Linked DNA regions of Homo sapiens. The protein of the gene in region 1 purifies or fractionates together with the protein of each later gene. This does not show direct contact. Each region holds a gene or a part of one and is shown in the gene's direction. Other genes may lie near its edges.

Evidence for each region.
Region 2: the proteins of NES (region 1) and CMSS1 purify together in Homo sapiens (affinity purification with mass spectrometry; one large-scale study listed by BioGRID and IntAct). This does not show direct contact.
Region 3: the proteins of NES (region 1) and ATP9A purify together in Homo sapiens (affinity purification with mass spectrometry; one large-scale study listed by BioGRID and IntAct). This does not show direct contact.
Region 4: the proteins of NES (region 1) and SCRT1 purify together in Homo sapiens (affinity purification with mass spectrometry; one large-scale study listed by BioGRID and IntAct). This does not show direct contact.
Region 5: the proteins of NES (region 1) and POC5 purify together in Homo sapiens (co-immunoprecipitation; one large-scale study listed by IntAct). This does not show direct contact.
Region 6: the proteins of NES (region 1) and MICALL2 purify together in Homo sapiens (affinity purification with mass spectrometry; one large-scale study listed by BioGRID and IntAct). This does not show direct contact.
Region 7: the proteins of NES (region 1) and CEP152 purify together in Homo sapiens (co-immunoprecipitation; one large-scale study listed by IntAct). This does not show direct contact.

Annotation. Positions count from the first base shown.
Region 1 is NC_000001.11:156,671,336-156,674,407, reverse strand, and holds part of NES (nestin), read left to right. Parts: intron 1-880; coding exon 881-954; intron 955-1,202; coding exon 1,203-3,072. UniProt on the Homo sapiens protein: Required for brain and eye development.
Region 2 is NC_000003.12:99,824,362-99,827,861, forward strand, and holds part of CMSS1 (protein CMSS1), read left to right. Parts: intron 1-3,500.
Region 3 is NC_000020.11:51,600,891-51,604,390, reverse strand, and holds part of ATP9A (probable phospholipid-transporting ATPase IIA), read left to right. Parts: intron 1-3,043; coding exon 3,044-3,180; 3' UTR 3,181-3,500. UniProt on the Homo sapiens protein: Plays a role in regulating membrane trafficking of cargo proteins, namely endosome to plasma membrane recycling, probably acting through RAB5 and RAB11 activation. Also involved in endosome to trans-Golgi network retrograde transport.
Region 4 is NC_000008.11:144,333,683-144,337,954, reverse strand, and holds the start of SCRT1 (transcriptional repressor scratch 1), read left to right. Parts: upstream 1-1,472; 5' UTR 1,473-1,785; coding exon 1,786-1,900; intron 1,901-2,763; exon of another isoform or gene 2,764-2,968; intron 2,969-3,838; coding exon 3,839-4,272. UniProt on the Homo sapiens protein: Transcriptional repressor that binds E-box motif CAGGTG. Can modulate the action of basic helix-loop-helix (bHLH) transcription factors, critical for neuronal differentiation.
Region 5 is NC_000005.10:75,714,638-75,718,928, reverse strand, and holds the start of POC5 (centrosomal protein POC5), read left to right. Parts: upstream 1-1,491; 5' UTR 1,492-1,623; intron 1,624-4,291. UniProt on the Homo sapiens protein: Essential for the assembly of the distal half of centrioles, required for centriole elongation. Acts as a negative regulator of centriole elongation.
Region 6 is NC_000007.14:1,445,971-1,449,470, reverse strand, and holds part of MICALL2 (MICAL-like protein 2), read left to right. Parts: intron 1-709; coding exon 710-851; intron 852-1,705; coding exon 1,706-1,896; intron 1,897-2,642; coding exon 2,643-2,758; intron 2,759-3,500. UniProt on the Homo sapiens protein: Effector of small Rab GTPases which is involved in junctional complexes assembly through the regulation of cell adhesion molecules transport to the plasma membrane and actin cytoskeleton reorganization.
Region 7 is NC_000015.10:48,804,570-48,808,069, reverse strand, and holds part of CEP152 (centrosomal protein of 152 kDa), read left to right. Parts: intron 1-2,413; 5' UTR 2,414-2,420; coding exon 2,421-2,507; intron 2,508-3,500. UniProt on the Homo sapiens protein: Necessary for centrosome duplication; the function also seems to involve CEP63, CDK5RAP2 and WDR62 through a stepwise assembled complex at the centrosome that recruits CDK2 required for centriole duplication.

The DNA of each region.
Region 1 (3,072 bases):
CACCGCCAGGGAAGAGAAGCCCAGAAGGAAGGCCGCAGCACTGGCAAGGACAGAGGTGAGGCTACAGCGAGTGCTAACCAGACTCAGAGATCATGGAGCAAAGCAGAGAGGAGCAGCTGCTCATCCTAAGTTATTGAATTGATTGGTCCCTGCTCCCCTCTTTGGTTCAAGGGGCGCTGAGGAAGGGGCCTGGACACAAAGACCTCTGTGCCCCGAAGAGCTTGGGATCCAGAGTGCTTAGAGATCCTGAGATGAGGGCCCTGACCCCCAGTGAAGCCACCAAGGGGAAGGGTCTGGTGGGCCCCGAGGAATTTAACTGCTATTTTTTGAGGCATGAAAAGGATTTGGAGAGGGGGAGCTGAATTCATTTGCTTTTGTCTGTCGCTAGCTCTGGGGGCCACCGGGGAAGGAGGAGGGAGCCCATCCCATGGGAACGGCCTGAGAATTCCCACTTCCCCAGAATCCTCTCCTTCTCAGACCCTCCAGATGGTGGCTTGGACAATGGCAGCAATTAGCATGAGAATCGGTCCCCCACACAGAGGATGAGGTCATTGGCCTGGGGTGGGAGGAGGAGGCTAGCCTAAGCCTTGTGTGGGTGTGTGTAGGGCAATGTCCGACTGTGTGGGAATCTGCTTCTATGTCTGAGCTCTGCTGTGTATCCCAAATACAGTGTGACTTTGTGTGACCAAGTGTGTGATGTCTGTGGGTATGTGACTGTGTGATTTCACCCTGAGTGTGGCTTTTGTGTGACAGTGTCAAATGAAGAGGAAGCCTGCAGGGCCTGGATGGTGCAAGCTCAGCCTGAGTTGTCCCCAGCTGGCTTGCTGCCTGCAGGCCTGGGGGCAGAGGGCTGACCCCACTTTCCCTCTGTCCTCTCCAGGACCCTCCTGGAGGCTGAGAACTCCCGGCTGCAAACACCTGGCGGTGGCTCCAAGACTTCCCTCAGCTTTCAGGGTAAGAGGAGGGGCCAAGTTCCCCCAGAAACTACCCTGCTTTGCTCTTCATACCCAGACCTATCTTTCCCGAGAGGCACCAATCTAAATTTCAAGTCCGTGGCCTCCAGTGTCAGTGAGCATGCTCTCAGCCCAGCCATGGGCGCCAGGGGCAGGCGCATGGATACTCTTGCCAGCGGTGGCTGCTCTGTGGCTCCCCTCATTGCCAGTGATATACTGATGCTGTTTCTTCCCCCTCTGCCTTTCCAGACCCCAAGCTGGAGCTGCAATTCCCTAGGACCCCAGAGGGCCGGCGTCTTGGATCTTTGCTCCCAGTCCTGAGCCCAACTTCCCTCCCCTCACCCTTGCCTGCTACCCTTGAGACACCTGTGCCAGCCTTTCTTAAGAACCAAGAATTCCTCCAGGCCCGTACCCCTACCTTGGCCAGCACCCCCATCCCCCCCACACCTCAGGCACCCTCTCCTGCTGTAGATGCAGAGATCAGAGCCCAGGATGCTCCTCTCTCTCTGCTCCAGACACAGGGTGGGAGGAAACAGGCTCCAGAGCCCCTGCGGGCTGAAGCCAGGGTGGCCATTCCTGCCAGCGTCCTGCCTGGACCAGAGGAGCCTGGGGGCCAGCGGCAAGAGGCCAGTACAGGCCAGTCCCCAGAGGACCATGCCTCCTTGGCACCACCCCTCAGCCCTGACCACTCCAGTTTAGAGGCTAAGGATGGAGAATCCGGTGGGTCTAGAGTGTTCAGCATATGCCGAGGGGAAGGTGAAGGGCAAATCTGGGGGTTGGTAGAGAAAGAAACAGCCATAGAGGGCAAAGTGGTAAGCAGCTTGCAGCAGGAAATATGGGAAGAAGAGGATCTAAACAGGAAGGAAATCCAGGACTCCCAGGTTCCTTTGGAAAAAGAAACCCTGAAGTCTCTGGGAGAGGAGATTCAAGAGTCACTGAAGACTCTGGAAAACCAGAGCCATGAGACACTAGAAAGGGAGAATCAAGAATGTCCGAGGTCTTTAGAAGAAGACTTAGAAACACTAAAAAGTCTAGAAAAGGAAAATAAAGAGCTATTAAAGGATGTGGAGGTAGTGAGACCTCTAGAAAAAGAGGCTGTAGGCCAACTTAAGCCTACAGGAAAAGAGGACACACAGACATTGCAATCCCTGCAAAAGGAGAATCAAGAACTAATGAAATCTCTTGAAGGTAATCTAGAGACATTTTTATTTCCAGGAACGGAAAATCAAGAATTAGTAAGTTCTCTGCAAGAGAACTTAGAGTCATTGACAGCTCTGGAAAAGGAGAATCAAGAGCCACTGAGATCTCCAGAAGTAGGGGATGAGGAGGCACTGAGACCTCTGACAAAGGAGAATCAGGAACCCCTGAGGTCTCTTGAAGATGAGAACAAAGAGGCCTTTAGATCTCTAGAAAAAGAGAACCAGGAGCCACTGAAGACTCTAGAAGAAGAGGACCAGAGTATTGTGAGACCTCTAGAAACAGAGAATCACAAATCACTGAGGTCTTTAGAAGAACAGGACCAAGAGACATTGAGAACTCTTGAAAAAGAGACTCAACAGCGACGGAGGTCTCTAGGGGAACAGGATCAGATGACATTAAGACCCCCAGAAAAAGTGGATCTAGAACCACTGAAGTCTCTTGACCAGGAGATAGCTAGACCTCTTGAAAATGAGAATCAAGAGTTCTTAAAGTCACTCAAAGAAGAGAGCGTAGAGGCAGTAAAATCTTTAGAAACAGAGATCCTAGAATCACTGAAGTCTGCGGGACAAGAGAACCTGGAAACACTGAAATCTCCAGAAACTCAAGCACCACTGTGGACTCCAGAAGAAATAAATCAGGGGGCAATGAATCCTCTAGAAAAGGAAATTCAAGAACCACTGGAGTCTGTGGAAGTGAACCAAGAGACATTCAGACTCCTGGAAGAGGAGAATCAGGAATCATTGAGATCTCTGGGAGCATGGAACCTGGAGAATTTGAGATCTCCAGAGGAGGTAGACAAGGAAAGTCAAAGGAATCTGGAAGAGGAAGAGAACCTGGGAAAGGGAGAGTACCAAGAGTCACTGAGGTCTCTGGAGGAGGAGGGACAGGAGCTGCCGCAGTCTGCAGATGTGCAGAGGTG
Region 2 (3,500 bases), on another chromosome or scaffold:
ATTCTCAGCAGAGCACTTAGCACCAACTATTATTTTTCCTTGTTAAATTAATTACTTTTTCCCAGCAGTAGACTGTAAGAGCTCCATGTGAGCAGGTATTTTGTTTGTCTTGTTTGCTTTAGTTTCAGGGCCTAGAGTAGTATCTGGATACAGCGAAGGCACTCATTAAGTATTTGTTAGTTAACCAATTAATTATTAATATTTCGTAGTCACACCTTGAAGACCTCAACCTAGGAGATCTTTATCAAAAGAACCTTGATCTGCTGGCAGATTTGTCAAACTCCTGTCCAGGCTTTTGACAGATTTGGCAAATGCCGCTTTTCTCTTTTCAAAATTACATTAGTAGTCCTTGTAAAACTGTGTCTAACATTTTATTGTAACCATATTTGGATTTAATTTTATAAATTACGTTTGGAAAGAGGACAAGAGACTCTTTGTAAATAAGCCTGTAATTTTTACTGGTGACAGCTTTTGTCACCTAGAATCAATGTGCTTATTCTTTTTGAGATTGCTGAAATGAGCTTTGTAAATATTTTTGTTGTAATATCATTTTATGGTATATTCTTCAAATTATATTGCTTTATCCATGGTGAATTCCTTCTGGAAATGGAGTAGGGGAGCACCTTGGATCTTTTCTTTAAACCCAAGTACCCAGGTTTTTTTGTTCTGTGTTTTTTCTATTTTCACACCAAAGTTAAACCTTTACAGTATTAGTTTTACATATAGACAGTCTTGCATTGTAGATGTTGTAAGGCATTGTCTCTACATATAAAATTCAGACTTGGAATATTTGTAGGAGATGTTAATAACACACAACAGAGGATCGACTTCTGGGCATGTTGTTTTCATAATCATTCGTCAAGCTCTCATGCTTAGCCTTGTTTTAGACACTGTACCAGAATTAGAGGGAAAAAACATAATCAGCTTACATTACAGGATTTACACATTGATGTGGTTCAGTCAAAATGCAAATAGTATTGACAGATATTCAGGGGCAAAACACAGGGGCAGGATGAATTTAAAAAGCAAGGGGAAGGAAAGAAGAAAGAGGAGGGAGAAAAATGACTATGTTATTAGTCATTGCTCTACACTTGAAGGCTGTAACAGATGGACACTTAGATAACCTTCATGGTCTGGTTTAATTTACTGCATATAATTTCCACAGTTCTTTCAGATGATTAAATGAGTGGTTCTTGACAACAATTACGAACATTTAAAGGTGGAAATTTATGCATATTTCCCTAAATTGCATGTCAGGTAGTTCCTGCTATAATTTTGCTAAATGTCCATGAATCTCTTGAAAAATACAACTCATAAATGTGGAAGGCCTATACATAACTTCCATTTCCTCCCTCAGATTCAATAATAATATATCATTTTGTGGCACAAATCTTTTTTTCTTTTTTTCTTTTTCTTTTTTTTTTTTTTTTTTTGAGACAGAGTTTTGCTCTTGTCCCCCAGGCTGGAGTGCAGTGGCGCAATCTTGGCACACTGCAACCTCCGCCTCCTGAGTTGAAGCGATTCTCCTGCCTCAGCCTCCTAAGTAGCTGGGACTACAGGTGCATGCCACCATGCCTGGCTAATTTTTTGTATTTTTAGTAGAGGGGGGTTTCACCACGTTAGGCAGGATGGTCTTGATCTCCTGTCCTCATGATCCGCCTGCCTCCGCCTCCCAAAGTGCTAGGATTTACAGGTGTGAGCCACGGAGCCCGGCCCAGCACAAGTCTTTTATCTGTTGTTAATCTGATGTTATTTAGTGGAACACTTCAGATGCATTCATAGAATTATACATTTTACTAAATATATCACAGCTTGAAATATAGTTTCCCCATTTTTATCAGCTTTCATAGAATTCTTAATTGATTTTTAAATGGCTAATATTGCTTATAAAAAGTAGTTGATCAAGCTCTTAAATTCCTATTTCTGAGTTCCTTGTTCTAGTTCACACTAGACCAGAGGTCAGCAAACTTTTTTCATATAAATCCAGATAATAAATATTTTAGGTTGTGTGGGTCCAGTCATCACCGTCATAACTGCTGTTGCAGTGTAAAAGCAGTCATAGAAAATAAATGTGTAAACGAATGAGTATGGCTGTGTTCCAATAAAATTTTATTTATGGACAACAATATTTGAATTTTATGTAATTTTCACGTCACAAAATAGTCTTATTTTGATTGTTTTTCAACTTTCACAGTGGGTTGAATTTGGCCTGTGAACCGCAGTTTGCAAACGCTGCCCCAAACTCAAAGTCACATCGTGAATTGTATGTCACGTGTCTTCAGGAGAAGAAATTTGAAACAAATCCAGAGAGAATTGTGTTTTACCTTAGTTACTCCGTTACTTAGTAGTTATCAGCTATGTATTAGACCAGTCACATATCTGTTAAAATCAGATATTTGATTCTAAAATATCTCAAGATTAGTTCAGAAACCTTGAAGGTAAATAAATGAAGGACCAGGAAAAGACTTCAGCTTAAAAGTATCAGGTTTTTAACATTTTTGTTACAAATTGGATTTGTTTTCACTCACTTGGATTTTTATCTGCTTACTTTGAAACAGTTCATCAGGTGAAATCACTCTAGAATTATTAGGTCAGCTTCTTTTATTTTCATTTTTCTTCAGAGGCCACACTTCTGCGGAAACAACATGCCCAGGAGGAAAGATGCTTTATATTTCAGTTGTGTTACATATAGGTCAGACATTACTGTTTTGAACTCCAAATAGTATTCTCACTTTATAGTTGTATTTGCATTTTTATTATATTATTAATACATATTGCTTGAAACAAGCATGGTTTTTGGTTGTCAATCCTTTTGTTAAAATATAACTTTATTTATTGTTATTATTTTGAGACAGAGTCTCACTCTGTCACCAAGGCTATAGTGCAGTGGCATGATCTTGGCCTACTGCACCCTCTGCCTCCCAGACTCAAGCGATTCTCGTGCCTCAGCCTCCTGAGTAGCTGGGATTACAGCCATGCACCACCAAGCCCAGCTAATTTTTGTGTTTTTAATAGAGATGGAATTTCGCCATGTTGACCAGACTGGCCTCAAACTCCTGGCCTCATGTGATCTGCCCGCCTTGGCCTCCCAAAGTGCTGGGATTACAGGTGTGAGTCACCGCACCCGGCAAATGTAACTTTACTTTGAAGACTTTTGTCTTAATGGGATTAGAACTGCATTACCATTTAAAGATGAGTTTCTGCTGGTTCCCATAGAAGTGTCAACATTTTTCTACGCAAATTTTTTCTTTTTTTAATTTGAGACGGAGTTTTGCTCTTACTGCCCAGGCTGGAGTGCAATGGCGCAATCTCGGCTCACTGCAACCTCCGCCTCCCAGGTTCAAGCAGATTCTTCTGCCTCAGCCTCCGGAGTAGCTGGGATTACAGGCATGCGCCACCATGCCCGGCTAATTTTGCATTTTTAGTAGAGACGAGGTTTCTCCACGTTGGTGAAGCTGGTCTCGAACTCCCAACCTCAGGTGATCCACCGCCTCGGACTC
Region 3 (3,500 bases), on another chromosome or scaffold:
GTGTCCTGATAGAGCTCCTGAGGGACTCCAGGGATCTCAGAATACAATCTGCTGCTCCTCACAGCAAACCAAGTGCTGAAGGTACTCGCCAGTTCCGTAGACGTGGGAGCACCTGCCGTGTGCCAGGATTATGGTGGCAGATGAGGTGGACGGGCTCGCCAGGGAGCTGCCCTTCTCGTTGGGAACACACGATAAACACACATTAAGTGAGTGTGAGCACAGGAATATCAGATGTGATCAAAGTTACCAAGAAAGAAAAATGGGGTGAGGTGCTAGACGCCCAGGCACACCCCAAATAAAAAATGTTATGGAGGCCGGGCACAATGGCTCACACCTGTAATCCCAGCATTTTGGGAGGCAGAGGCGGGTGGATCACGAGGTCAGGAGTTTGAGACCGGTCTGGTCAACATGGTGAAACCCCATCTCTACTAAAAATACAAAAATCAGCAGGGCGTGGTGGCACACACCTGTAGTCCCAGCTACTTGGGTGGCTGAGGCAGAAGAATCGCCTGAACCCGGGAGGCGAAGGTTGCAGTGAGCTGAGATCACGCCACTGCACTCTAGCCTGGGCGACAGAGTAAGACTCCATTTCTAAATAAATAAATAAATAAATAAATAATAAAAAATGTTATGGGAATGTAGAGATGGGGGAGTGTCAGCACCATCCTAATGTGGGGTGGTGGCAGATTTCTCTGACCTCAGTAGTGATTCCAGGTACTCTTGGGCTTGTCCAGCGTCAGCCACTGTCTCTAGATGGACAAGCCTGGTTTCATCACTCTTCCATGCTGACCTCACTTGCTTTGCCATATCAGTTAATTTCTTCCCAATTGATTGAGCCACAAGTCCCTGCAGGGCCACCAAGATGACCCCATGCTATGCTACGGACCCCATCGGGTGCTGACACGGGCTTTAATTCCTGTCTAGAAACCTGTTTCTAGTTCAACTAGAACTTGCAACACGGGCACGGTTCAGATGATCCAGCATTTTCTGTGTTGTGCTGTGGATAGATTCTGAACTCTAATCTTGGTTTCCCCCGCACGGGGCAAACTCAAGCCGCTATGGCTTTGGAACCTCAGGGCCAGGGGTCATCCTGAAAGTCTAGCTGGTTTAGCAGACAGTCCTCTTTACACCTCTTTCCTCCTCAGTAGGAGCATTTAATTTTCTGTCTGTGTTATTCAAACAAAAAACCCTCAAGAGTGATACTGTTTCTCCTTTATCAGCTGGGGGAGCAGGGCCCGGAGGCTGCTTCTCTGCTAAGAAGCTCATGTGTGTTCAGGATTGCAGGATAGACTCTCTCTGGGGGAAACTTTCAGTTAATGACAACCCCCTCACGCCCCATCCTCCGTGGGAAACCTGCAGGGCCCAGGCTCTCTAGCAATGGCCCATCCCTTGCTCCTTTACCTCAGGCCTTCTCAGTGGGGGTGGTGTGGACCCCACCGCCTGGGGAACAAACAGTGGTCTTTGGTGGGGTGTGAACAAACCCTAACCTTTTACGTATAAAGGAGATGTATATATAATATTATAAACAGATACACAGTATACCTGTGACATTAACATGTCATGGAGGTGGTCAATTAGGAGAAGAAGAAAAGTCTAAAAATGTTCCTTAAGGGGCAATAACAACAAAAAGGCAGAGAAACTCGACCTTACCCTGGAAGCATCTTTGATCGCGGCTCTTTTGCCAGCTTCCAAAGCTCCTTAGGAAGGTTTTAGTAAAGGTAAAAGAAACATCCCCTGAAAAGTAAAGGTTTCACAGTTGCAGCCCCAGTTTCTAGAAAGGATTTGTGAGCATTTACTGTGCGCTCCAGGAACTAAAGGAGCATCCCTGTGAACAGTGGAGTTTTAAAGCAGTTTCACCCTTGTCACTAGTCTCTAGAAAGCGTTTTGTGAGACCTAGTATGTGCTCAAAGGCTTGGGCCTGAGGTGGTCACAGAGATGTGGCCCCTGCTCAGGAAGCTCAGCTTGTTTGTGATAGGGACACACCACAGGACCGGGTCAGAGGTGTAGGAAAACCACAGGGTGAGTTGAGCCTTGGGCCTGGCACTTAGTAGGTGCTGCCTCAGTGGCAGCTGCATTTCAGCATCCTGTGCTCAGAAAGTGGAGAAGGGGCTTATTCTGGCTTCTGCTATATTGAAAGCCACAAACTGTCACTCCTCTCTTAAGAAAACCTCATAACCGGGTTTATAATCCTGCAGCAGGAAAGGCAGTACGCCCGCCCCCCCCACCTTCCATCAGAGTCCCTGAGGGTCAGCTTAAGCCTTTCTCTGACAAGGGGGTCTGAACACTTTGCACCATGACCCAGACTCATCCTGTGGCTTTCTGCGACCATCACTGGAAGCAGAGGGTGCATTTGAATGTCATTTTCTGCTCGCCAGTGGCCGGGACTTAGAAAGACTCTCCAACTGTTAGACAACACCAAATCAAAAGCATCTCTGAGTTTTCTTCCCCTGTAATTTTCTTTCCTTCTTTTTTTCTCTTTTTTTTGAGACAGTGTCTTATTCTGTTGCCCAGGGTGGAGTGCGGTGGTGCAATGTTGGCTCACTGCAGTCTCAAGCTCCCCGGGCTCAGATGATCCTCCCACCTCAGCCTCCTGAACAGCTGGGACTATAGGCATGTACCACCATGCCTGGCTAGTTTTTGTATTTTTTGTAGAGACAGGGTTTTGCTGTGTTGCCCAAGCTGGTCTCAAACTCCTGGGTTCAATTCTTCTGCCCGCCTTGGCCTCCCAGAGTGCTGGGATTAAGGCATGAGCCACTGCATCTGGTGGCCCCCATAGTTTTCTTCTCCTGGGTGTTAAAAGTAGCATTTCACTGTCAGGAAGCTACAGAAGAGAGAGCGAGGAAAATCAAGCTGCGGCGCTGTGTGCTCTTAGCCATGGTACCTTCCCTTACAGTCCATGGAGAAAGAGGGCCAATGCCAGGAGGCTGTGGGTTTGTGACGGGAGATGACTTTCCCTTTGATAGTTGTGACGCCTGTTTCTGGACCCCATGCACCTTCCGGAATATTCCTGCCTGCTCACTGCCGTCTTCCCCTTTCCTTGCAGATGTGTACTTCATCGCCACCTTGTCATTCTTGTGGAAAGTCTCCGTCATCACTCTGGTCAGCTGCCTCCCCCTCTATGTCCTCAAGTACCTGCGAAGACGGTTCTCTCCCCCCAGCTACTCAAAGCTCACATCATAGGCCGTGCGTTCGCTGGAGGGGGCCCTGGTCTTGGCGCTTCCCTGATGGACAGAGCTCAAGTTCCATTTATATTAACCGCCACCTGTGGATTTTGCAGTAATTGCTAACACATGCAGTTTTAATGGGAAGTGGCTCTGCGCCTAAACGGAGTCCTAACGCTGCATCAACGGGAGGGAGGGTCCTGAAAGAGACCCATCTGGGCCTGTCTGAACCCCTCGTTCTTCATGTTTAGGTGAATATGAATATGTTAAAGCTGGTGGCTCAGCTGGGAGATTTATATGGGTCACTGTGCGAGCTTCCTTATGACTTGAATTTTGTTG
Region 4 (4,272 bases), on another chromosome or scaffold:
CCTTGGTCCCCAGCGGCAGCGGGGCGCGTGGGAGCGCGCTCGGAGCCCGTAGACCCGGACCACCGGGCGGGGCGGGTGAGGGGACAATGGCGGCGCCAGGCCCTAATTGGGGACAGAGGCACCCGCGCGCGGCCATTGTGCGGCCCGGAGCCCCGGAGCCCCCGCGCCCGGCGCCCCGCCATTGGCCGCTGAGCCTGACGTCATGGGGGCTGCAAACGCTGGGCGGGCGGCCGAGGAAAGGGTTATCCGCCTGGTTGCGGGGCTGCCGTGGGGAGCTGCAGCCGCGCGGAAGGGCGGAAAACCCCCAAAGCAGCAGAATTTCTGGAGCAGGGTCGTGGCAGCCCCTCTCCAGCTCCACACCCGGCTCGCAGCGACGCCGCTGCGCCGCACACCCGCCCGGGGGGAGAGAGGCGGGGGCGGGTAGGCCCCTCCAGCGTGCACGGGGTCAGCCGGGGTGACCGAGCGGCGGGAGCCACTGCGGCACAGGGCGCGCGCTGCGCTTTCGCTGCCTCAGCACTTGCTCCTTCGGCTCCCGCCTCCCCCGCCCGCCCCCGCAGATCCCGCGCCCCAGGCCCCGAGCGAGGCAGGCGGGACTGGGGTCCTCCCTACGTTCCTCCCCACAAGACCCCGAGTCCGGGGCGCTTGGGTCCCAGGCCTGGCTCCATTTCTCCCCACACGCCCGACAATGCTGCTGGCTGCCGGGCCGCGGTTCCCCGAGCCGCGCGGGGGAATTCCCCACTCGCGCAGGCTGAGGCATCCCCGGGACCCCTCCCAGGAGACCCAGGCCGGGGCTCGGCCCAGCGCAGCCATTTCCGCCGGCCTCTCCCCCACCTCCCTCCCCCTCCCCCAGCTCCTGGGCTTTAAAAGCCAGAGGCTGGGCCGGGCCGCAGGCAGAGGCGGCTGCGGGCTCTGGAGGCCGGGCCCAGGAGCAGTCCGAGCGCCGAGCCCCGCCCCCGGAGCCCCTGTCCCTCCCTCCCTCCCTCCCTCGGCCCGCCCTCCCTGCGCACCCCTCCCCCCAGGACCCCCGCCCCCCGCCCGCCGCCGCCGCCGCCGCCGCCGCCGCCGTCGCCACTGCCGCTCGCTCCGGCTGCAGAACAATAAAGCAAGCCTCCCAGAGACCCCCGCCGAGGACCCCTGCCCGGCGGCCAAACCCCCGCGGACCGCCCCTCTCCGCCCGCGCCGGTTGAGCGCGCCCGGGCGCTGGCCGCGGTGCTGCCCAGGCCGGCGCTGGCCGCGGTGCTGAAGCTGCCGGCGCTGCCGCTGCCACCGCGTTCTCCGGGCCCGGCGCCGCCGCCCCCGGGGGCATGGGGGGCCGCTGACTGAGGCTCCGCCGCGGCGGCGGGGGGGGGGAGGGGAAGGGGGCCACCGAGCCGGGCCAGCCCTGCACCCACTCGCAGCCTCCAGGCCCGGGACGGAGCCGCTCCCCCCCTCTCCGCCCCCCCAGCCTCCTCCCCCGCCTGTCCAGGGGCGGCACTGCGGGCTGGGAAGCCGGGACCAGAGGAGGGAAGGAAGGAAGAGGAGAGGAGAGAAGAGGAGAGAAGGAAGGAAGGATTGAAGGAAGGAAGGAAGGATTGAAGGAAGGAGGAAGAAGAGGGATCCGGAGGGGCAACGGAGGAGACGCAGGGCAGCAAGGAGAGAGGACACCACTCGCGCGGCAGCATCCAAAGGCCAGAGTGGGGACCCGCGCTGCCTCCGCCGCTCCTCGGATGGTGACGGGGCCCTGCCGCCGCAGCCCCCCCAAGCCCCGGCTCCGCAGGCCCACAGCGCCGGAGCCCCGCAGGAATCATGCCCAGGTCCTTCCTGGTCAAGAAGGTCAAACTTGACGCGTTCTCTTCGGCCGACCTGGAGAGCGCCTACGGACGCGCCCGCAGCGACCTCGGCGCGCCACTGCACGATAAAGGTGAGCGCTGGTCTGAGACCAGGGCGCGGGGCCTGGGGCTTTGCTGGAAGCGGTGGAGGGCCAGAGTGTGGGGGCGGAGGGCAGGGCCCGGGGAAACAGACTGAAGGGAACCAGAAACGGCAAGAGTCTGTGGCTGGAGCCTGGACGGTAGAGGGGAGGAAGGGGAACACAGAGGCCAAGGCTGGGCAGGGAGAGTGTCGACGTTGGACAGAGGGTGGGGAAGAGGATCAGGAACTGAGGTACCCAAACGCACACATGGACCCACATCCTGACCCATGCTGGGACAGACACAGCCGCATGGGCGCTGCCATGACGGGACCCAGCCATGCCGGCACACACAGACCTACACTCAAGAGACCAGGGCCGCCTCGCCACCCTCTCCTCTTCCTTGACTGCACCAGGACACCTGCTAGGGTTAGCTGGGGAATGCAGGGAGCTCCAGGGAGTAGGCAGGGGGTCCAACAGGGCCGCCCACCTGTCAGAGCAGAGGGCCAGCAGAGGCAGCAGCAGTCTCTTCCCTGAAGCCTGGGTCAGGGAGAGGAAGCAGGGAGGAGGCTGTGAGCAAGGGACGCCCAAGGTGTGGGAGGCAGGGGGAGGCTCTTTGTGTAAGGGTGCCCAAGTTCAAGGACAACTGTCAGCATGCAGGAGAGGGGGACAGGAGTGCCAGCAGCATGGGGTGGCAGAGCAAGTGTGACCTGCAGGAGTGTGAGCCTGTGTGGGTCCATGTGACTGTGTGTGGCCATGTGACCGTGTGCGCTTGTGTGTGACCCTGTGTGTGTGTGTGCTTGCCTGTGTGCCACTACATGGGACCATGTGACTCTGAGGCCGCTGTGCACCATGTGACTTGAGAGTGTGTCCGGGGTGACTGCATGTGTGACCCTGCGTGAGTGAGGAGGTGGTGAGTTCGGCACATCAGTGTGCAGCCCACCCTGTGAGGGCACACAAGGGCTGATCATGCTGGGAGACTGGGTGTAGCCCTGAAGGAGGCAGAGCGTCGCGAGGGGCGTGCATTTGTGACTTTGAGGTTATGAGATCCATCTTGTGCCTGGGGAGCAACTGCAGCTACCGGTATAAGTGATGCTGCCCTCCTGCAGCTCGTCCCTGTGAAAGTGGACGCCCTGGCCCTCTCTGCACAGTTCAGGGGCTTGGGAAGGCCCTGAAAGGGGTTAGGGTGTGAGCAGGAGAGGGCAATGTTGAACAGGGTAGGACCCAAGGGTGCAGGATGGTGAGAGGGAGTTCGGAGGAGAAGCAGAGTGCATGGAGGAGCAGGGAGGGCAGGGTCAAGTCCAGTGGGTGGCCGGAGAGCTGAGGGAGGTGCTGGTGAGGCCGGAGGGAACTGGGGGAGGGAGACGTCTTCAGGGCTTGTTGGAGGAACCAGAAGGCCAGAGGGGGTCAACATCAAAATGGAGCGCACGTTCTGCAGGCCAGAGGGAGAGCCGGCCAGGACCCCGGAGAGGTGGGACAGACGGGGTCCCTGGGCCGGCAGTCCTGGCTTTGTGCGCCGCGGGTCTGCAGTGTGTTGCATAATCAGGGAAAACTGCTGAAGTGGGGAGAACCCGAGGGGGAGGGGAGGGTGGGTGGGGGAGGAGGGAGAGGGAAGCGCCGCCCCTCCCCCCTGACCTTGAGGCTCCGCGGAAGGGGGGCAGCCGCGCCCGAAGACGCGCCTCTCTCCTCCTCTCTGCGAGGGTGGGGCGGCGGGGGCGGAGCGTGGCCCGGCCCTGTCTCATCCTCTCCTCCCCTCTCTTCCCCTCCCTGCTGTCTCCATCCTCCCTGCCCGGCGGTCCCTCGGCCTCCTCTCCTTTGTCCTCCTCCCTGTTCGCCTCTCTCCCGGACCCGGGTCTCCCGGTCCGCGTCTGCTGTCTCCCGCCCCCCCATCCCCCGTGTGTGTCCTGCCGCCGCCCCATTCCCTTCCCGCTGTCCGTCCGCCTCCGCCCGCAGGGTACCTCAGCGACTACGTGGGGCCCTCGTCCGTCTACGATGGCGACGCCGAGGCTGCGCTGCTCAAAGGGCCGTCGCCGGAGCCCATGTACGCAGCAGCTGTGCGTGGAGAGCTGGGTCCGGCGGCTGCAGGGTCTGCGCCGCCGCCCACCCCGCGCCCGGAGCTGGCCACCGCTGCGGGCGGCTACATCAACGGCGACGCGGCCGTCAGCGAGGGCTACGCGGCGGACGCCTTCTTCATCACCGACGGGCGCTCGCGGCGTAAGGCTTCCAATGCCGGCGCTGCCGCCGCTCCCTCCACAGCCTCGGCGGCGGCCCCCGACGGCGACGCCGGAGGCGGGGGCGGGGCGGGCGGGCGCAGCTTGGGATCCGGGCCGGGGGGCCGGGGCGGCACGCGCGCGGGGGCAGGCACCGAGGCGCGCGCGGGGCCAGGG
Region 5 (4,291 bases), on another chromosome or scaffold:
TTGTGTGTTCGGTGTTTTAGATATATTAATTCCTTTAATCTCCTACCACCTTAGTATGTGAGTAGTATTATCCAAGGTGACAGCGAGTAGATGGTAAAGCTAGATTATAATTATGATCTGATTCTAAGGCCAATACTTCACCAGAAGGCTCTATCTTGAAGTCTGACACGTTTGAGATTAGTTAAAACTAGACTACCAATTTTGGTTTTTTCTTTGTTTTTTGAGACAGAGTCTCACTATCACCCAGGCAGGAGTGCAGTGGCGATATCTTGGCTCACTGCAACCTCTGCCTCCTGGGTTTAAGGGATTCTCCTGCCTCAGCCTTCGGAGTAGCTGGGACTACAGGCGTAAGCCACCACACCCGGCTAATTTTTGTATTTTTAGTAGAGATGGGGTTTCACCATGTTGGCCAGCCTGGTCTCGAACTCCTGACCGCAGGTGATCCGCCTGCCTCGTCCTCCCAAAGTGTTGGGATTACAGGCGTGAGCCAACGCGCCCAGCCTAGACTAGCAATTTCTCAAAGGGTGGTCTGCAGACTCCTGCATCAGAATCACTGGCAGTGTGTGTTAAAAATTCAGATTTCCTGACGGTGTCCATGACCGAAGGAATCAACACCTTCGGCCGGGCGTGGTGGCTCACGCCTGTAATCCCAGCACTTTGGGAGGCCGAGGTGGGCGGAACACCTGAGGTCAGGAGTTCGAGACCAGCCTGGCCAACATGGTGAAACTCCATCTCTACTAAAAATACAAAAATTAGCCAGGCGTGGTGGCGGTCGTCTGTAATCCCAGCTACTCGGGAGGCTGAGGCAGGAGAATCCCTTGAACCTGGGAGGCGGAGGTTGCAGTGAGCCGAGATAGTGCCACTGCACACCAGCCTGGACGGCAGAGCAAGACTCCATCTCAAAAAAAAAAAAAGCACCTCCAAGTGATTCTGTTGCAGGGGATCTGTGGATGATGCAGATTTTTTTTTTGTTTTTAATTTTTTATAGAGAAAGGGTCTCCCTATGTTCCCCAGACTAGTCTCGAACTCCCGGGCTCAAGCGATCCTCCCACTTCGGCCTCCCAAAGTGCCGGGATTACTGGCATGAACCACCACACCTGGCCCAGAATTTCGGATTGTTCTTATGCAGACGAAAGCATTAGGACTCATATCTAGGTTACCGGAATTGTTGAAAGCCAACAGCACACGGCATTAGCCAACTTCAGCCCTGCTCAACAGCCTCTATCCAAATCAGCTCCCGGAGCCGCTTAGCAGCCTGCAGCCGCTGAACAGAACTGAGCACGCGCAATATTTAATCCCCACGGGCGCTGGGTGGGGCTCCCTAGGACCCCGCCCCCTACCAACCTGCGGAGCCAGGGGGCGGGGCTCTCCAAAGTAATTCCGGCTTCTCCCGGCAGCGGCCCAAATCCCCGCCCCCAGCTCTCGGACCAATCAAACGGCAGATTGCTGAAACAAAGGACCAATGCCCAGGGCGGTCCTTAATTCCTCCCTGCAGTTTGAAACTGTCAGGTTGCCGTCTAGGTAGCGGTTGTGCTTGCTGAGGCTGCACTTGCTGACACTGCAGCTGCGACGCGGCTAAGAGGCGCAGAGCGAGGAGTCGGGATTTGGTCGCGAGCGGCGACGGTGGGTAGCAGCGCTCCGGGCAGATCCTGCGTCCCTGCATCCCTGGCGAAAGTAGTGGAGGGAGATTTAAAGTTCCTTGGCGCGTGTTTCCTCCCCCTGGGCTCTTCCCCAGACCGCGAGTGATTCAGCTGTTGTGCCGGAAGGTCCCAAAGTTTCCCCTCCGAGGCGTGCAGGAAGAGGAAGTGAGCAGGAGTGAGGGATGCTGAGCGATTACTGTCATCAGAGGTTCCGGTCACTTAAAACGTTGAGAAAAAATAACCATGTATAAAGCTCTGTTGTGCTTAAGTAAGATTTTTCTTAAAACAGGCTGGGTCGGAAGGTGATGGAAGAAAACTTATGGCCTTTTGCTTACTGCAATGGCTTTTCTCCTCTGCTTCTAGTCCCTGCTTTGGGGAGGGGCTGGCGCGCCCCTTTCCTTGAGTGCAGCTAGGCCTGGTGAAAGGCACAGGCGACATCACCCTGCTGCTAGTTTGCATGTTAATTCGCTCTTCCTTTGCCTCTTGGGGGTTCCATTTGAATTCCCAGACCCCTGTTTTGCTGTCAGCCAGATAATTACCAAGATGTTATTTTATGTTTCTGGCAACAGAGAAGCACACAAAAGTTTTGATCTTGTTTTCTGATACCTTGGATTAGAGACTACTGAAAATGTAGTGAACTAATGTGCGTCCGCCACCCATTAAAGCAGTTTTCATTTTTCTCCTTTGTTTCTGAACCTAGAAACAGTAAGGAAAATGCTACTGTTCTAGAGTTTCAAATAACTCATACCTTGTTGACATAAAGCAGGGCAGATGGAAGATAGCATATTTTCCAAGAGTGCGGTGGGTTTTTTTGTGTCTGCAGTGTGTCCATATTAAGAAACAATTTTTGAGATCTGACCATACTTACTAGCTCATTTTTAAATAATCAGCACCCCCCCCCCCCCACCCCTGTTACCTGCCTGGTCTCAAATCCTGAAGGAAGAAGTGAATAAAAATATAAATGGACCAAGTTATCACAGTGGTAGATTTGAAGTCAGTGAAGCAGCCATTCCTTGCTGCAGATACATGCACTTATTTTATCCTCCCTAATTGGCTTAACTAAAGACAGTCATGCTGAGATTTAGTTTACTTAACATGTGTATGCACAGTGATACTCACTGGAAAAAGTTGAACTTTCCTTTCCACAATTTAGTTCCAGCCTGTGTTTCCATTCTATTTTTGCACTTTTCCCTGTATCTTCCTTTTCTATTTCAATTTCCTCATCTCTCATTTATTTTTCAGCCCACTGTGACTAAGACCTGTAATTGTTTTACTTTCCAGTGAAATTGTTCAAGCAAACGTCTCAGCAACCTCCTAATCTCCAAATTCTATCCAATCCTCATGGTTCTTTGGCATCTAATTCTATTTTCTTCTCAAAGTTGTGATATTGCTTCCATAGTTCTAATGTTCTGACTTCCTTTGCTGACTCCTCTTCTTTGCTGACTGTTCTTCTCTTGCCCTTTAGATGTTAGTGGTTCTGGCTTTAACCCTCTTCTCATTCACAGTCGTAGTCCTTAACTCTATTAGGGCTATGGTCCCCTCTGAACGCATATTTAAAGCGAAAGATCTTCTTTCTAGAAAAATACACATTCACATTTATGATAAAAATATTGCATACGAGTCGGGTATAGGGACCTGATATGGTTAGGTCTTGTGTCCCCACTCAAATCCCATCTTCAATTGTAATCTCCACATGTAGGGGAAGGGAAGTGATTGGATTATAAGGGCGATTTCCCCCGTGCTGTTCTCATGATAGTGAATTCTCACGAGATCTGATGGTTTTATAAATGGTAGTTTTTCCTGCACTCTCTCACATACTGTCTCACCTGCCGCCATCTAAGATGTGCCTGCTTCCCCTTCTACCATGATTTTAAGTTTCCTGAGGCCTCCCCAGACATGCGGAACTGTGAGTCAATAAAAATTCTTTTATTTATAAATTACCCAGTTTTGGGCAGTTCTTTTTTTTTTTTTTTTTTTTTGAGACGGAGTCTCACTCTGTCGCCCAGGCTGGAGTGCAGCGGCGCGATCTTGGCTCACTATGAGCTCCGCCTCCCGGGTTCACGCCATTCTCCTGCCTCAGCCTCCCAAGTAGCTGGGACTACAGGCGCCCACCACCACGCCAGGCTAATTTTTTGTATTTAGTGGAGACGGGGTTTCACCGTGTTAGCTAGTATGGTCTTGATCTCCTGACCTCGTAATCCTCCCACCTCAGCCTCCCAAAGTGCTGGGATTGCAGGCATGAGCCACCGTGCCCGGCCTGGGCAGTTCTTTATAGCAGTTTGAAAAACGTACTAATACAGGACCTCAGGATAAGAACTTTTTCTCACATTCCTTTTTTATAGGTGGTCTCATCCATTCCCTTTTTTCAGCAGTTCCCATTATGCCAGTGATTCCTCAAACTGGATCTCCAACTTATACCTCCAGTGCGGCGCTCCCACAATGCTTAACTCCAGGAAACACCATTCACAGTGTAGCCATTGTGAATGGCAGTTCTTGGAGTAGCGCACTACGTAGCCAGTGTGACCACAGACTGCATACTTGCAGCTTTACCCTAGTGCCTCAGAGGCATCCTCACACCCAGCTCATCTGATATGGCACTCATTGTCCTTCCTCCCAACCTGCTCATCTTCCTACCTTCCTTGCCTTGGTGA
Region 6 (3,500 bases), on another chromosome or scaffold:
GGGCGTGGTGGTGCGCACCTGTAATCCCAGCTATTCAGGAGGCTGAGGCAGGAGAATTGCTTGAATCCGGAAGGTGGAGGTTGCAGTGAGCTGACGCTGCGCTCCAGCCTGGACAACAGAGTGAGACTCTGTCTCCAAAAACATAATAATAAATAAAAATAAATAAATAAACAAGTCCAGTTCCTCAAGTGTGCCGGCCACACTTCCCATGCTCACAGCCATGCCTGGCCGGCGGCTGCTGGGCTGGACGGCGTGGGCTGTCGAGTCCCTGTCTCAGCCTCTAGCGGCCCTCACCTGTTGCCTGGGAGCCCTGACATGGCGACCTGTGTGTCCCTTCTGGCCCCCGGGGAGGGCTCAGCAATGTCAGCCCTGCCTCTGGAGGGAGCTGTTTCAAGACTGCGTAAGTCTGGGTTGGGTGGGGCCTGGGATTCTCCCGGTGAAGGGTAGGATCCCCTGAGGTTTCACCTGGACGGGGCCTTGAGCGCCCACCGGCCTGGTGACCTCAGTCCTGTGCAGATGGGACCGTGATCCCCGCTGCAATGATGGGTAAGCTGAGGCCGGGAGGCCACGCGAGCAGAACTCAGCTCCGGCCTCCAACCCACGCCTCTTTGGGCTCCAAGACTGTGTCTTTGAGTCGAGGTGAGCTGCGGCCTGGTGGAGAAGGAGGGGGCTCCCAGCTGCCCCGCTGACCCCCTCCCACCTTTCGCAGGCCTTCCGCGTGGCCGAGGAGCACTTGGGCATCCCAGCCTTGCTGGATGCCGAGGACATGGTGGCCTTGAAGGTGCCTGACCGGCTGAGCATCTTGACCTACGTGTCCCAGTATTACAACTACTTCCACGGCCGCTCCCCCAGTGAGTCCCTGCCGCGCCCGCCGAGCCAGGCAGGACCAGGCCCCCCATCCTTGGCCTGGCTCCCAGGCCTGTGGACTTTTTGGGGTCCATGCCCAGCCCCCCCCCCAAGAATGGCCCCTGGCATGGGCACCGGGGCTGTGCACTGGCTGTGAAGCAGCAAGAGGCCTTGGTGGGCGCCCCATCCCCAACCCCGGCCCCATGCAAAGCCCCAGGCTGTGTCTTCACCAAGAGGGACCGGGGCCCTCATCCTGCTGCAGGAGAGCTGCCCCCGCTGCTTCCCCAAGGTGCCAGGTGCACCAGCAGCTCCTGCCGCCCTGCCCCTCATGGGCCTCAGTTTGCCCATCTGGACCCCTGAGCTTCTGTGCCCACTGGGGTGGCTTGGCTGACCAGGGGCAGCTCCTGGGCCTACCTTCATCTGTCCTGATTTTGGACCCTATGGAAGCCAGGCTGGCCTGGCAGGGTGGGGCCCCCGGATAGAACTGGGCAGGGGAGGGACAGGCCCGGCCTTTGTGTGTGTAGAGCTCAGCTCCCCACCCCCCCACCCCCACATTCCTCTTCTAGGGTTTAGAAATCCCCAGAACCATTCCGGGCACAGGGCCTGCCCTGCCTGCTGGAGAAACAGAAAAGTCCCTTTTCCCTGACTCCAGCTGGGGCTCTGAGTGGGGAGGGAAGGAGTGGGGACCGACCCGGGGCTGTGCCAGAAAAAGTGCCCTCAGGGTTACCTCTCCCCAGCCCTGGGCCCCCAGGTCCCCCCCGGGCACCAAGGCCTGTGCTGGGCACTGGGACCTCTGGAGGGACTAGACCCTTTCAGAGCCAGGCCTGGGACCCTCCCGATCCCTGCTTGATTCCTCCAGTTGGGGGCATGGCAGGCGTGAAGAGGGCCTCGGAGGACTCTGAGGAGGAGCCGTCAGGGAAGAAGGCTCCAGTCCAGGCGGCCAAGCTGCCCTCGCCCGCCCCAGCCCGGAAGCCTCCACTATCTCCAGCCCAGACAAACCCTGTGGTCCAGAGGAGGAATGAGGGTGCAGGGGGCCCGCCCCCCAAGACTGTAAGCTCCCACCCCACCCTCCCCCTGGTTCTCTGGGTTTTCCACCGGGGGGTGCAGAAGGGGCTTGTGGGACTACGTGCGGCCCCTAAGCCACGGGACCCAGAGTGGGGTGCGGCTCCCCCAGTCCAGGGCTCAGCCTTAGCAAGAGCCGCCAGGACCGGGCTCTCCAGGGCTCCATCAAGCCAGGGGTTGTGATCCCACTTTGTACAGATGGGAGAGCACAAAGGTGGGACAGAGCTTGAACCTAGATGGGCCCAGGATACCTCTCTCCCGGGGAGAGAAGGGTTGCTGGGCTATGCCCTGTACCCAAGGCCGGCTCTGCAGAGTGAACCCAGGCACCCCCACTTCTCAGAAGCGGAGTTGGGGTGGAAGGCGGTGGGCAAATATCTGGTGGTTGGCAGCCCCTGCTATGCCTGGACTGCCACTCCAGGCTCCCGGGATGGTGGGAATTGGATGGGATCCATGCCCCTAATGGGGCAGGAGGAGGCCTGGAATCTGTCCCCTGGCCCCCAGCCACCGAAGGACCACTAGCATCGGGCCTCAGCTCTCTCCCCAGGGCTGGGCTAGAGGCCCTGGACTGGGGCTGCCACCCACCTGGGTGTGACCCCGACCGCAGCCCTGCTGGCGGCTCCTCTCCTGGCCAGTTCTCCATCTGTAAGATGGGCTCTTCCGGCCACCTGTGGGCTGCCACCAGGAGGGAGGGCTGGGTGGACGGCTGCTCAGAGAGGTGCTGGCATCTTCCCCAGGACCAGGCATTGGCGGGCAGCTTGGTCAGCAGCACCTGCGGGGTCTGCGGCAAGCACGTGCACCTGGTACAGCGGCACCTGGCCGACGGGAGGCTTTACCACCGGAGCTGCTTCAGGTGGGGCTGCCCTCTGCCCGCACGCCTGAGTGTGCACCTCCCCTCCCAGAACCCTCCCACAGCTCCCATCGCCTCCCACCCGGCCTCCTCCTCCCCGCTCCTCGTTCCTCTCCCCTCTCCCCTCTCCCCTCCTCCCCCCTCCCCCTCCCCGTCTCCCCTCCTCCCGCCTCCTCCCCTCTCCTCCCCTTCTCCCTCTTCTCCCTTTCACTTTCCTTCCCATCCTCCCTTCCTTCTCCTCTCTATCCTCCCCCTCCTCCCCCCTCCTCTCCCTCTTCACTCTTCTCTCCCTAATGGTCCGCCTCCTCCCCCTTTTTCCCCCTCCTCCCCCCTTCTCTTCCTCCTCCCCCCTCCTCTCCCTCCTCCCCCCTCCTCTCCCTCTTCACTCTTCTCTCCCTACTGCTCCGCCTCCTCCCCCTTTTTCCCCCTCCTCCCCCCTTCTCTCCCTCCTCCCCCCTCCTCTCCCTCCTCCCCCCTCCTCTCCCTCCTCCCCCCTCCTCTCCCTCCTCCCCCCTCCTCTCCCTCTTCACTCTTCTCTCCCTACTGCTCCGCCTCCTCACCCTCTTCCCCACCCCCCGCTCTGTTGCTGATAGCCCAAGATGTTCTACTGTTCCCAGACACCCAGGACCTGATGCCCCTCACTAAGCCCCAGTGTCCCCCAGTGCCCCCGTCCAGATGCCTCCTCCAGTGCCCCCGTCAAGATGCCCTCCCGACTGTCCTTCCACACACACTGCCTCAGTCTCCC
Region 7 (3,500 bases), on another chromosome or scaffold:
CTTAAAGTCTTTTATAGTTTATAGTTCTGATAAGGAAAACTTATACCTTCTTCAGTGGGGGAGATTTTGGTCTTTTCAGGTATTTTTAGATGTCTTCTTTAATGACATGTTTTGAATTTAAAATAACATTAAAGATATATACTTTGATATTTTACATTCTCTTTAAAAACAAAACCCTAAGTATTCTCTATCTGAGAAAAAGTAGCTGTCTATTTAAAATATTAGTAGCTACATTTTTAGCAATAGGCTCTTATAAATCTTAATGTTCTTTTTCAATAATCAACATCAGTTGATGGCAGGTTAATAAAGGATGGGAACAAACCTCTCTTCTCTAACTTAATGAAGGAGAAAGTAACCCAAATTCCATATTTCGTCTTGTATTTATATTTGAATGAAAGAAAGGTAGAAGACACAGAATTCAGAAACAGAAAGGATTTTTTCTGCCTGGAGGATTCAGGAATTTCTTTAAGGTCCAGCTTAATTTCATCTCTTTTTTTTTTTTTTTTTTGAGACGGAGTCTCGCTCTGTCGCCCAGGCCGGACTGCGGACTGCAGTGGCGCAATCTCGGCTCACTGCAAGCTCCGCTTCCCGGGTTCACGCCCTTCTCCTTCCTCAGCCTCCCGAGTAGCTGGGACTACAGGCATCTCTTTTAAGGACATAGGATTTAATTGGGCTAGTATTTTCAATATATATAGTGTTCTGTAGAATATTAAGTCTATTTGCATAGTGGAAAAAAATCTAGAGACATGAGATTGTGTGTTTTTCCCTCACCATTTCATGTTACAGGCTTTTTATCATATTCATATCTTCATCTTATGTTGACATACAAAAGGATTCTTATAGATAGATTTATTTTCCTCGATATGCATGTCTCTTCCCCCGTTTAGCCCTGTCACAAGGGTAGAAAGGAATAGGTGTGGTCTGAGAAGCAGAGGCTGGAGGGTTTTAAGTTGAGGTATAGTCTGAGTTGATATGAGTTTAAAGGGACGGGTTGGGTGTAGGGACCAGAGAGGAAGGGATTAGAAGGTAGACTGCAAATTAGAGGTTGGCCAAGAAACATAACTCAGTCTTTGAAAAACAAAAACTTGTCATAGGGGGATTTTTACCACTGAAGTTCATATGTATGTTAATCTTTAATACCATATTCATCTATTCTAGCTTGCATATTTTCTTTTCACACTTTAATATCTACAACATAGACTGCGTCCTAAAATTAATGTTATGTCATAATTTGATTGGCTACATCTCGTTCCTACTGCTACAAATGGAACTGCATCATAGAATCAAAGACATCTTAGATCTGATGAAATGGGATATTGTCTGCTCTAGAGCTATTGGCTTCCACAAAAGTTTGTGATATAGTTCGTATCTGTTAAGACGAGGGAGCTAAGTTCTCTATGGTAAAATGCATTTGGATTGCTGGGTCTCCATGCTTCTGATTTTACTTCCAATTTAATGACATTTTAGAGCTTGAAAGGTGTAGTGAATGAGTTGTGGCTCAGGCTCACATCCAAGTGCGTTTCATTGGCATGAACAACAGTGGACTGAATGGAGGGCAGTGTTAGGCCAGGTAATTGATGACACCTGCCTACTTTTTTGTTGTGATTGTTCAGAGCTTTGAAGTTCTGAGGAGTTTATGTATAGTGTCAGGATCCCTAAGTACAAGTTAAATCAGCAGCAGCTTTTTTGAATGTAAGTAGTTGAAAACCCATTTCCTGCTGCTGCTTCTGCCGCAGCAGTCACTGCTCCCCAGGGAACTCTTGCTGTTGCTTTTGGAATTGGAAGTCCACAGTGGTGGAGCTTCACAGCCTTCACTTCTGTTTTTCCCGAGTATATTGCCAGAACCTGATTTTATCAAGCTTAAGAGGAGGACATTTAAGACTTATATTTTGTTGTGCACTCTATGGCATTGACTGAATTGTAAATGGTTTCTGGGTAGTAGTCATTCACTCATGATTTAGGGGCCTTCTTCTTGTAAAGCATGATATTTGGATTTCTGATATTAAAAAAAAATGAAGCAATAGGGTACTGCCTGTGCCATGTTTAATATATCACATTTGAAGTTTTGTTTGAGCTTAAGATTTTTACATTTGGCACATTTCTAGTTTATTATTATTGTCATCTTATTTTTCATGTCGGCAAAAATCTTACTGTTTTATACTCTTCAGACCACTAGAAAGGTCTATTCATAGCTTTATTACCTATTTGCATGTTTTCTTTTCCATGAATTGCTGTCATATAGCTATTTTCGGTGAATCACCATTATTTTTATTGGCCATAACTGAGTTATACATATTTTCTCCCAGTCTGTTTCTGTCTTTTCACTTTGTGTATGTATGGCATCTCTTATGTAGTTTGTCCTGGGGAGATTTTATGTGGTGTCCAGAAACCAAACATCTTTCCCTTCCCACAGGAGGACCATGTCATTAGACTTTGGCAGTGTGGCACTACCAGTGCAAAATGAAGATGAAGAGTATGACGAAGAGGACTATGAAAGAGAGAAAGAGGTAAGTTGTTAAAAAAAAAAAAAAAAAGAGACACTAAACCCAATCTTTAACAAGTTTTATTTCTTGATCAAAATTGTATCATCTTGTGTCATTTTGAAGGGATTTGGATTTTTTAAAAAAAAAACAACCCTAAAATCTGCTTGCTATTTAGACTGAAAAGGTGAATAAGTGGAATGCTTCTGTTTTTGAGACAGGAATAAAACACAACTGTGAATAATACCATCAGATAAATGGTTAAATTTTTCTTTTCATTTAGGAGGTAATGGTTGGCTTTGGAAGTGGAAGGTTAGTTTCTAGGTGCTTGAAACATTGCCATGAACAAGTCTGACAAGGCTCTTTGCTTTGGGTAGTTTACATCCTAGTGGAGGCAGACAATAAACAAGTAAACAAGTGAGTAAAGTAATTTGAGTGAGTGATAATTTATCATTGATAAATGACAGGGAAACAAATTGGAGTGCTATGAAAGCAATTGATAGGGGATTGCTGTAGATGGGGTGGTGAGGGAGGGTCTGTGGGAGGAGGCAATATATGAGCTGAGACTTGACTCATGAGAAGGAACCAGCCATGCAGAAGCCTGAGGAAGAGCAGTCTACGCCAAAACACCAATGAGTGTAAGCTGGGAAGTTGGGAAGAGACCCCGTGTATGCCACAGATCATGTGGAGCGGCCAGAAGGCCATGGTATTGGGTATATATGAGCCAGTGTTGGGTGGTGGATGTGGGTGTCAGATCATGGAAAGCCATGATAAGGTGTTTGTATTTTATTCTAAGAACAATGGGAAGCCAGTGGAGGATTTTAAGCAGGGAAAATTGATATCATATTTTTGAAGATCTTTCAGAAGGCTGCATGGTGAATAGATTATAGAAGGAAAGGAATAAAAGGGAGAGACCATATTATTTATATGTAAAGTGTTTAGCAGAATTCTTGGCACATAGCAAATGTTCAGTAAATGGTGGCAATAGTAATAGCAGCAGTAATAGTGTTATTGGTGGAA